2 separate regions of the Homo sapiens genome follow, and region 1 is linked to region 2. The links come from fine-mapping of genetic effects on gene expression. Tissue or cell type: whole blood. Region 2 holds a variant in brackets; the other region holds the start of a gene. All regions are shown on one strand. Distances are from middle to middle.

Evidence for each region. PIP is the estimated chance that this variant, and not a neighbour inherited with it, causes the effect.
Region 1: it holds the start of CYFIP1, and the variant in region 2 is fine-mapped to the expression of CYFIP1 in whole blood (INTERVAL, PIP 0.92).

The regions. Positions count from the first base shown.
Region 1 is chr15:22,977,550-22,983,256 of GRCh38, forward strand. It overlaps CYFIP1 (cytoplasmic FMR1 interacting protein 1), which reads right to left and starts at 2,819. Exons shown (of 31, transcript NM_014608.6): 1 at 2,738-2,819. It also overlaps a transcript of TUBGCP5 not described here. RefSeq lists enhancers at 1-18, 1,148-2,115, 2,116-3,084.
Region 2 is chr15:22,844,062-22,849,768 of GRCh38, forward strand. NIPA2 (NIPA magnesium transporter 2) reads left to right here. Exons shown (of 8, transcript NM_030922.7): 3 at 1,085-1,206. Among named protein-coding and RNA genes, the nearest start is that of NIPA2, 8.2 kb to the left of the region's middle. RefSeq lists enhancers at 601-710, 1,265-1,374. The variant A/AATTAATAATAAT (reference allele first, on the strand shown) is at 2,757.

The sequences.
Region 1 (5,707 bases), 130 kb after region 2:
GGTGGGCGCGGTGGTTCACGCCTGTAATCCCAGCACGTTGGGAGGCCGAGGTGGGTGGATCACCTGAGGTCAGGAGTTTGAGACCAGCCTGGCCAACATGGCAAAACCCTGTCTCTACTAAAAATACAAAAATTAGCTGGGTGTGGTGGCAGGCGCCTGTAATCCCAGCTACTCGGAAGGCTGGGGCAGGAGAATTGCTTGAACCCAGGAGGTGGAAGTTGCAGTGAGCCGAGATCACACCATTGCACTCCAGCCTGGGCAACAAGAGCAAAACCCTGTCTCACAAAAAATAAAATAAAATAACATAACATAAAAGAAAAGAAAACAAAGGAGGGAGGGAGATGTTAGCTATTATTTAAACCCAAAGTCACCTTTAGCATTATAAACTTGAGTATGTGCACAAAGATACAGACACAAGCATTGACTGTAGTGGTGAAAAACAGTAAATAACTATAATGTCAATCAACAGGAGGCTGATAAAATTATGAAACATCCACACTACAGAATACTATAGTGATTTGGCCGGGCACAGTGGCTCATGCCTGTAATACCAGCACTTTGGGAGGCTGAGGCGGGCAGATCACTTGAGGTCAGGAGTTCAAGACCAGCCTGGGCAACATGGCAAAACCCCGTCTCTACTAAAAAGACAAAAATTAGCCGGGTGTGGTGGTGCGTGCCTGTAATCCCAGCTACTCAGGGGGCTGAGGTGGGAGAACCACCTGAACCCAGGAGGCATAGGTTGTGGCGAGCCGAGTTTGCGTCACTGCACTCCAGTCTGGGCCACAGAGTTAAGACTCTGTCACAAAAAAAAAAAAAAAAAAAAAAAAAAAAAAGGAATACTATACGGTTATTTAAAAGATTGAGGGAAATCTGTGTGTACAGACTATATATATCAACATGTAAAGATTGCTAAGATCTTTAAGTAACCAAACATCATTAAGTGAAAAATGTATGACGATAATATATGCAATATGATCTCACTATGTTATTTAAAAAATTACTTATGCACAGAAAAGACTATTATACTACTTAGAAGTACCGAGGGAATTTCACTTTTAGTATACACGGTTCTATGCTGTTTAATGTTTTTAATGAACTATAGTTTTGTAATTTTTCTCATCACTTTATCATTTTAGTCTCTCTCTCAGGCTGTATCCGAGAGCCACACTTTTCAGACCCTTGTATCTTTACTCTTCAGGGACAAACCAGAGCATAGCTGAATCTCCAACGCCTTATGCTAAGCGAAACAAGCCAGACTCCAAGCCCACATGTGACATTCTGGAATGGGCAAAGCAGGAGGACTGAGGAACAGACAGGCGGCTGCAAGAGCGGGGAGGAGAGAGGCTGCCTTCCTGAGTATCCTGACTGCGGTGGAAGTCACTACAGTCCATGCACCTGCTACAGCTCACTGAACTGAACACCAAAAAGTGAATCTTACTAAAAGTTTAAAATAAATTTAAACACACACACAAACTTAGGGGGTACATTTTCTTTGAGCGCAGCACAGACACCTGTCTTAACGCAGGAAACGTCCTCCGCCACGACTCCAGGGCGCCTCGGTCGCAGTGAGGGCACCGGCACTATATCCCTACTGGCCCTACGAGTGCACACCTGCTACGGCCCGCGCCCACTCACAGCGTGACTCGTTCTTCCAGGCTCCGTGCCTGCAGATCTAGACATCACTTGGAAAACCGCTGGCCACCCGCAGGGAAAAGGCAGCATGCGTGGGGCCCCCGCGGGTCCCGGCCTGGCCGGGACTCTGCCGCCAAGCTGTCAAGCATAGCAATGTGCGCACTGCACCAGGCATCACCGCGGCTCCGACCACGCCTCATTCCGGAGTCCGACGGACGACTGCAAGAAACACCACCGCTCCCGGCGCAGCCACGGTGCCCTCCGCCGCCAGAAAACAAACGCTCCCGAGCCTCAGTCCCCAGCGGCGACCACGCGGCGCTGGGCTCAATCAGCAGCCGCTCCCTGACTGGACTTAATAGCGGAGCTGACACCGTCCAGACGCCCCTCTCAGCTTAAAACACGTTCCATCAACCCCGTTTCCCGATTATTCTTGCACCCTTCTTGTCACACCCACAATGTGCTGCAAATTAAGCTCACGCATTTCAGCCTTAAAATACACAATTCAGATGCTTGTGCGAAACAGTGCTGCCTCCGTAACGATCGCGCCTCCTTAACAAAGCCCAAAACTCCTCTCTCCAAGAATGCCCGGAATGGCTCCGCGGACCAGGCTCCCTCCGCTCCTCACAGGGGCACGAAACAAAAACGGGTTCAGATCTTGCTGCGCGACCTTAGTGCAACATTAACAATCTGCCTGCTCCTTACTTTCCAACAAAAACGTCAAACACTAAGGTATTCCTTCGCCACTGGAGCTGTGCCATGTGCCGGGGCGCGGAATCCGGGATCCGGGGGCGCGAGGCGGTGAACGCGGGGGCGGGGAGCTCGGGGCCGAGGCCGAAAGGCCGGGGGCGCAGGGACCGGGAAGCCAGTGCAGGGAGTGCGGGGACCTGGAGCCCGGGAGGCGCGGGAGCCCGGGGCCGGGACCTGGGGGACGCGGGGACCAGGACGATCCCGGAGGCCGCGCCGCCGGGGAGGCCGCGCCGCCGGGGTTGGGGGGGAGGGGGGGGTCCGTCCCGGCCCCGCCGCCGCCCTGGCCGGCCCAGGTTCCGAGGGGGACCCGGACCCCGCGGAGGCCGCAGGGCAGGCGCGGGCGAGCGGGGTTCCTCACCTGCGTCCGCGGCGGCTTGGGGGTCCTGGGCGGGCCCTGGGAGTTTCCTTGGCCGAGTGAGTCACTCGGGCTGGCCGGGAATGCGCCAGGAAACACTCGGCCTCCTCCCCTTCCTCCCGGGGCGGGGGCTCTCCCGGCTCGGCCTCTTCCTCCCGGCGCTCCTCCCTCCCGGCCGCGGCCCCGGCCGCTCCCTCCTCCTGGCGGGGCATCCCCGGCCGGGCGGCCCCTTTCCCCACGCCAGCCGCCGAAGGTGTCCTCCCAGGCAGAGAGCCCCTGGCTACCTGCCGGCCTGGGTCACCGCAGCCTGCGCGGGACGGCGGGGTCGGAGCGGAGCGGGCGTGGGGTCCTCCTGCGGGTCCGTCCGGTTCGGAGCGCGAAGGAACGGGGTCCGCACCCTGTCCCGGGGCTCCACCGGGTCAGGGCGGGGGTTGGCCTGAGCTGCGGAAGGAGCTCAGGGGGACACCCAGGACGCCCGTGTGGCGCCGCCCCACTTGGCAGGAGGCGCTCACCTGCGCTCGTCGGGAGGGTTCCAGGCGCGGGTCCCAGCTGCAGGTCGGCGCGCAGAGCCCGCTGGGGACCCCCCCGGCCGGCCCCTGCGGCCCCATTGCCTGCGGGAACCAGGGACAAATCCGTGCGCAGACCTGCGGGAACGGCGGACGGAAGAAAACCTGATTTGAGCTCGTGCCAAAAAACAATCTTGAAAGGCCGGTGAAGAAACATACCTCACACGGAAACGCTGAGTGGAGTCAGCTGGTCACAGGCGTGTTTAGGAAAACTGCCCTAAACGCCCCGCTCAGCCGCAGCAACCTCACTCCCCATTCATCCGCGACCCCTGGTTCTTACGGAGAACAGTAAGGATGGGCATCAGATATTCTAGTCTGGTCTCTAGATTATGAAGGTTTGGTTACCCCCGCTTGTGCTCTGCGGTAAGGCAAAAAGCAGCAAATGAATCCTGACCAGCGGATTGAGACAATCTACCAGTTGACTCAATATTCGGATATCACTTTCTCACATTCCTGCAAAACAGGGGCTTTGGATAACATTCTGGTTCCCAGTCCACACATTTTCAAATCAGCAGATTACTCCTTTTCTGTGCCTAGGGTGGAGTCTCAAAATTAGATTCCAAAGGTTTTTACATTGTAGATGACATGATAGAACCCAAATTCAAGTTATACTGTGATAATTTAAAATATTGTAATCCCGGCCGAGCGCAGTGGCTCACGCCTGTAATCGCAGCATTTTGGGAGTCCGAGGCGGGCGGATCACCTGAGGTCAGGCGTTCGAGACCACACTGGCCAACATGGTGAAGACCCCGTCTCTACTAAAAATACAAAAATTAGTCGGGCATGGTGGTGTGGGCTTGTAATCCCAGCTACTCGGGAGGCCGAGGCAGGAGAATCGCTTGAACCCAGGAAGTGGAGGTTGCAGTGAGCCAAGATCGTGTCGCTGCACTCCGGCCTGGGCGACAGAGCAAGACTCCGTCTTAAAATAATAAAATATTGTAATCCCTAGAGCAATTAATAAAAAATAATACAGCTAAAAATCCAAGAAAAGAGATAAAATAGAATACAAAAATATGCTTGATCCAAAAGAAAGCAGGAAGGAAGGAGCAAAAAGCACATAAGGCAAAGACAAAGAGCAAGCAGTTAGACTTCAACCACATTAGTAATCACATTGAATGTAAATGGACTAAACATGTAATCCGTTTACTAACTGTAAATGGATTAAAACACAGAAATTGTCACATTGGATTAAAAACGAGACCCAAATATATTCTGTTTTAAGAAGACATAATTTTGGCCGGGCACAGTGACTCATGCCTGTTAATCCCAGCACTTTCGGAGGCCAACGCGGGTGGATCAACTGAGGTCAGGAGTTCAAGACGAGCCTGACCCACATGGCAAAACCCCGTCTTTACTAAAAATACAAAATTAGCTGGGTGTGGTGGCACATGCCTATAATCCCAGCTACTCAGGAGACTGAGGCAGGAGAATCGCTTGAACCCGGGAGGCAGAGGTTGCAGTTAGCTGAGATTGCGCCATTGAACTCCAGCCTAAGCAACAAGAGTGAAACCTGGTCTCAAAAAAAAAAAAAAAAAAAGACATAATTTAAATATAAGGACACAAAGAGGCTGAAATTAAAAAGATGCAAAAGGACATGCTAATCAGAAAGGTGGAGTGATTATATTAATATCAAAGTAGAATTCAACTCAAGGGGCACTATCAGTGATAAAAAGGACATTTGATAAAAATAAATGGGTCAATTAAGTATGAAAAAATAGGCCGGGCATGGTGGCTCACGCCTGTAATTCCAACACTTTGGGAGGCTGAGGCGGGCAGGTCATCTGAGGTCAGGAGTTCGAGACCAGCCTGGCTAACATACCCTGTTTCTACCAAAAATACAAAAAATTAGCCAGGTCTGGTGGCACATGCCTGTAATCCCAGCTACTCGGGAGGTTGAGGCAGGAGAATCGCTTCAACCTGGGAGGCGAAGGTTGCAGTAATCCCAGCTACTTGGGAGGTTGAGGCAGGAGAATCACTTGAACCCGGGAGGCGGAGGTTACAGTGAGCCAAGGTCGTGCCATTGCACTCTAGCTTGGGCAACAAGAGTGAAACTCCGTCTCAAAAGAAAAGGAAGAAAAAATAACTTTTAGTGCATATATACATCAAATAAGTTTTGAAATATTTAGACAAAGATGGATAGAATCAAAAGAAGAAATAGGCGAATACACACTCATAGAGATTTGAACTTCTCTCTATTAGTAATTGATAGGACAGGCAGACACAAAAAGAAGTAAAGATACAAAATTTTTTTTAAGTAATTAACGTATTATACCTAAATGGCACCTCCACAAAACAGAATACAGAATGCATTGTACGGAATGAAAGATGTTCAGACGCTTTGTACTGAAGACTTCAAGCTGTTACTGACAGGAATTAAAGTTTTCAAATAAACACGTAACATTCACAA
Region 2 (5,707 bases):
CAAAGCAGGTCCTAGTTTAGGTTTTCCTTATTAGAATACTAGTCCATTTTTGCCTGTTTCTTAAATCATGTGTTTTCCACATTTTTTAAGAAAGTGGACTAATTTCATAATTTTCTTTTATTTGAGATGTATTTATTCCATTTTTGACATGCTTTATGTTTAATGAAAGTTCACATTACAAATATTAGTAAAATCAATTGTGAAAATTGAACTTGTTGGCCGGGAGTGGTGGTTCACTCCTGTAATCCCAGCACTTTGGGAGGCCAAGGTGGGCGGATCACAAAGTCAGGAGTTCGAGACCAGCCTGGCCAACATAGTGAAACCCCGTCTCTACTACAAAAAATTAGCCGGGTGTGGCAGTACACGTCTGTAATCCCAGCTATGCGGGAGGCTGAGGCAGGAGACTTGCTTGAACCCGGGAGACGGAGGTTGCAGTGAGCCGAGATGGCGCCATCGCACTCCAGCCCGGGCGACAGTGCAAGACTGTGACTCAAAAAAAAAAAGAGTTTGTTAAAATGTAGAGAGAACAAGCAGAACAAAAAAATTAGCTAGGTGTCGTGGTATACGCCTGTGGTCCTGTTGATTTGAGCAGCTGAGGTCAGAGATCACTGCAACCCAGGCATTTGAGACAGCAGTGAGCGATGATCGCGCCACTGCACTCCAGCCTGGGAAACAGAGTGAGACACTGTCAAAAACCACAACAACAACAACAACAACAAAAAAGCCCTTCCCCTCCCACACACAGAATAAGCAGAAAATCATAAGACTCTTTAAAAGTGTTTAAAACGTCAGTAGGTTATTTTTGGAATTTTTAATTCTCTTAGTCGTGGAGTCCTTGAGGATAGGCCCTTTGATCATCTTTACAACTTCAGTGCCTGGCAGATAATAGCTGCTCAGTGTTTGTTGAGCAATGGTCACAGTTCGGATTACTCCCGAGTCCCCCTAAGTAAACTGGGCAGGTGAACCACATGGAGCTTGGGAACCTAGTTGAAGTGAAATTTAGAAAATTTTACTGTTTATCTGTCTTTAATACTGGCCCTGCCTCATGGCTAATTCTTAAGAAGAAAAAATATCTCTGTTGCAGGCTCTCCCGGCTGTGATAGACCTTCAGTTACAGAGAGAGGGAGCAGAGTGGGACCAGGTCTGAGAATAGTGAAGCAACTCATTCCTTTCAGGACATTCCCTCTGATGTCCTATTTTCAAACTGTAAGTCAGAATGAGATCACTTATTTTCTTGGTGGCAGAAGGCTGCTTTATAATTTGAAGGCTTGCAAATTGTATGCTGCTTGTCATCCCCCAGCCCTCCACACATACACCCTGGTACAGTTCCATGCATGAAGAAACAACCAGATCACCTTATTTGGTGATATGCCTCATTCTAGAAAGATTTGTAAATCAAATTTGCTACCGTAAATGAGTGCCTTTTGTGGGGAAACCACCACAGAAAACCTAAGTAATTGTTTTTAAGGAACTTAAAGAGTTTACCTTGAAGATAGAACAGTAGTTGAGAATTAAATAGTAAAGAAGAGAAAATGCCTGTGGGCTGGAGTTAATTGCAGAAGTCTTTGTAGCACAGCTTAAGGTGTACCCTGGCCTTGAGTGGAGAGCAGGCTTTGGGTTGCAGGAGGAGGAGGAGGGGAGGGCCTGTCTGAGGGTGTCAGGTTTCTGTGTTAGGAAATGAAGTGGGCAGGAGAGGGGTGCCTGGCCAGGGGGACTCTCGAAAGCCATATGCACATGATGGACCCAGCTGGTCAGAAAAGGCCTTCTCTCTGCTTTTTGTGTTTGAAATTTCCCATAACACATAAATTAAAATAAAAGGGAAAGGGGAAAATAGATTTTAAATAGCATCATGAAACTTTATGTAAAATAAATATGGAGAAAATCTCATATGATAGCCTTAGTAAGGTTAGGAATAATGTTCATTGGCCTTAGGATTAAATGAGTAAAATTCCATTATATGTATTGTTTTAATCACCTCTTCACCTTGTCAGTGAGAGAGGGATTTCCATCCCACAGTACTGACACTGGACAGACGAGATGGACGGAAGTTTCTTAGTCTTTCGCTTAGGATAGAACGGAGAACCAGGGGCTGCGGGAGGCAAGGCTTTGTGGTAACGAGAGTGGCTGTGGTTCCTGCAGAAAGACTAATAATTGCTTTCAGAATTCCTTGGGCTGGCAGGGCAGTGGGGCCTACTCCTCAGGCATAAGCAGCAACTGTACCTGTGCCTGGTCACTGTGATGAGAATTGTTTGGCATCTTGGGGAGGGAAGCTTGCCCTGAGGCCATTAAAAGCTCCTGGTTTTTACCAGATGTCAAGGCAACATGTAATACTGGCTCTTAATGTTAGACCTTACACCACATGTATGTAACTTGCATTTAGTGAAAGTTAACATTAAGTGTTAGTAAATATTAGTAAATTAAGTAGTTACAAATCAGTTATTTGAAAGGTTCATGATACAAGTAAAATCTGGGCAGGATGCAGTGGGTGACACTTGTAATCTACCACTTTGGGAGGCCGAGGCAGGCAGATCGCTTGAGCTCAGGAGTTTGGGACCAGCCTGGACAACATGGTGAAACTCTGTATCGACAAAAAATACCAAAATTAGCCAGGTGGTGTAGTGTTGCACACTTATGGTCCCAGCTACTTGAGAGGCTGAGGTGGGAGGATCACTTGAGCCTGGGAAGTCGAGGTTGCAGTGAACCATGATTGTGCCACTGCACTCCAGCCTGGGTGACAGAATGAGACCCTGTCTCCA[A/AATTAATAATAAT]AATAATAATAATAATAATAATAATTATTATTATTATTATTTAAATTTGGATTTGTGAGTCTGTTGTTTTTTGTTTTTGTTGTTGTTTTTTTTTTGTTTGTTTGAGACCGAGTTTCGCTCTTGTTGCCCAGGCTGGAGTGCAATGGTGTAATCTTGGCTCACCACAACCTCTGCCTCCCGGGTTCAAGCGATTCTCCTGCCTCAGCCTCCCGAGTAGCTAAGATTACAGGTATGTGCCACCATGCCCTGCTAATTTTTTTGTATTTTTAGTAGAGACAGGGTTTCTCCATGTTGGTCAGGCTGGTCTCGAACTCCCGACCTCAGGTGATCTGCCCGCTTCTTCCTCCCAAAGTGCTGGGATTACAGGCCTGAGCCACCGCGCCCGGCCTTGTGAGTCTATTGTTATACTGGGATTAGAACTGTAGATAAACCTGACTTTTTTCTGGATATCATCTTTATTGGTAAGAAGGTTCAATTTTATTGCTTACAGAATATTCAGACTATAAATTTGATTTGTTCCATTACCATAGAACTTAAAGTATATAGTGAGCAATACAGCTGTCAAGTAGTCACTTCCACAGCAGTAGAACTTGCATGATAATTAAGAACATTGCTTCATGAAGACAAAGATTAAAGGAGGATGATGATTCTTTTTTTTTTTTTCCGAGACGGAGTCTTGCTCTGTCACCTAGGGTGGAATGCAGTGGGGTGATCTCGGCTTACTGAAACCTCCGCCTTCTGGCTTCAAGCAGTTCTCCTGCCTCAGCCTCCCAAGTAGCTATGATTACAGGAACCCGCCACTGCGCCAGCTAATTTTTGTATTTTTAGTAGAGATGGGGTTTCACCATGTTGGCAAGGATGGTCTCGAAATCCTGACCTCGTGATCTGCCCACCTCGGCCTCCCAAAGTGTTGGGATTACAGGCATGAGCCACCGTGCCCGGCCGATGATTTTTATGTCAGATGATCTTTTTTATTTTATCTTATTTTTATTTTTTTGAGACAGAGTTTCTATCTTGTTGCCCAGGCTGGAATGCAATGGCACTATCTCAACTCACCACAACCTCTGCCTCCCTGGTTGAGGCAATTCTCCTGCCTCAGCCTCCCAGGTAGCTGGGATTACAGGCATGTGCCACCACGCCCAGCTAATTTTTGTATTTTTAGTAGAGACGGGGTTTCTCCATGTTGGTCAGGCTGGTCTCGAACTCCCGACCTCAGGTGATCCGCCCACCTCGGCCTCCCAAAGTGCTGGGATTACAGGCGTGAGCCACCACGCCTGGTCGATGATTTTTATGTTGGATGATCTTAAGGAATGCTTTCATTGAAGTGAGGTGACCCTGACTCATGAGAAGGATATACCTGCCAGGAGGGCTGAAGCGTTTGGGTAGCTCGGTTTCTCACTCCCATTTTCGTAGTCCGTATAACCATTTTCCTTGCATTTTCACTTCCATCTAGTACTGCCACTTGCTAGCATATTGGATAAATGATTATGGTTCTCAAGTTTAAAAGCTATAAAACATCGGTTACATTTTAGGATGCCAATCTAAATGATGCAGTAGTTTTCTGTGTATTAATGGCTGCTTTGTTTGTTTGTTTGAGACCAGGCATAACTATGTTGCCCAGGCTAAACTTGAACTCCTGGTTTCAAGCAATCCTTCTGCCTCAGCCTCCTGGTGTGTACCACTGTATCTGGCTGTTTTTAAGGGCTAATTATGAATTATTCCATTTGGCTGGGGTGGTGGCTCATGGCTGTAATCCTAGCACTTTTTGAAGGCTGAGATGGGCGGATCACTCGAGGTCAGGAGTTCCAGACCAGCCTGGCCAACATAGTGAAACTCCATCTCTACTAAAAATACAAAAACTAGCTGGGCATGGCAGCATGTGCCTGTAGTCCCAGCTACTCAGAGGCTGAGGCAGGAGAATCACTTGAACCTGGGCAGTAGAGGTTGCAGTGAGCCGAGATCATGCTACTGCACTCTAGCCTGGGTGACAGAGCAAGACTCTTGTCTCAAAAAAAAAAAAAAAAAAAAAAAAAAGAATTACTCCATTCATCCATATTCACCCAGAAAACACACATTAAGACCTATTTTGAGACTACCAGATAGCTATGTGCATAGGCTAAAAGGGCGAATATCATGCAGGAGCCCAGGAGCTTACAGTCTGATGCAGGAGACTGGCTGATAAACACAGATCAACAAGCCATGCAGGATGCAGTGGGAACAGTGTAAGCACACCTGCTTTTTGTTGCAATCTTACAGCGTGTAGAAATGATGATTGTCCCTGACATCTTGTTTCAAGTTCTCCTACCTTGTCTTTAAATGTGTTTACATCTCTGTAATTTATTTTTACTGTCAATGAGACTCACCTATCTAGAATTATTCCATAGATATGCTGAAGTTAACTTGAGGCTTGAGATGACCAGTATTTGGCACATAAAGTGGGTAATACCTTAGATTGTTCAGCTTCTTTCTTTTTATGTATATATCTGTTAATGTGGTGACTCATCCAAGATCACACCTCCAGCTGGAAGCAAGACGGGGTCTCCAAACTCCCCACCTAAGACTTTTCTCATGGAATCTTGCCTTATGAATGGCACAGAGGGACTAGGGGTACTTTTCCAAATCTGTTAAGGGAGAGGTCAGTTCTGGAAGGCTTTCGGGTAGACAGTCTCATCCATGAGATTATGACTGATACTTAGAAGAACTCAGCACCTTTTTGACTTGAGTGTTTTCTTTCAATGTTTCAGTATTTTTTTTTTTTTTGAGATAGAGTCTCGCTCTGTCGCCCAGGCTGGAGTGCAGTGGCGCGATCTCGGCTCACTGCAAGCTCCCCGTCCCAGGTTCATGCCATTCTCCCGCCTCAGCCTCCCAAGTAGCTGGAACTACAGGCGCCTGCCACCACTTCCGGCTAATTTTGTTTTTGTATTTTTAGTAGAGATGGGGTTTCACCGTGT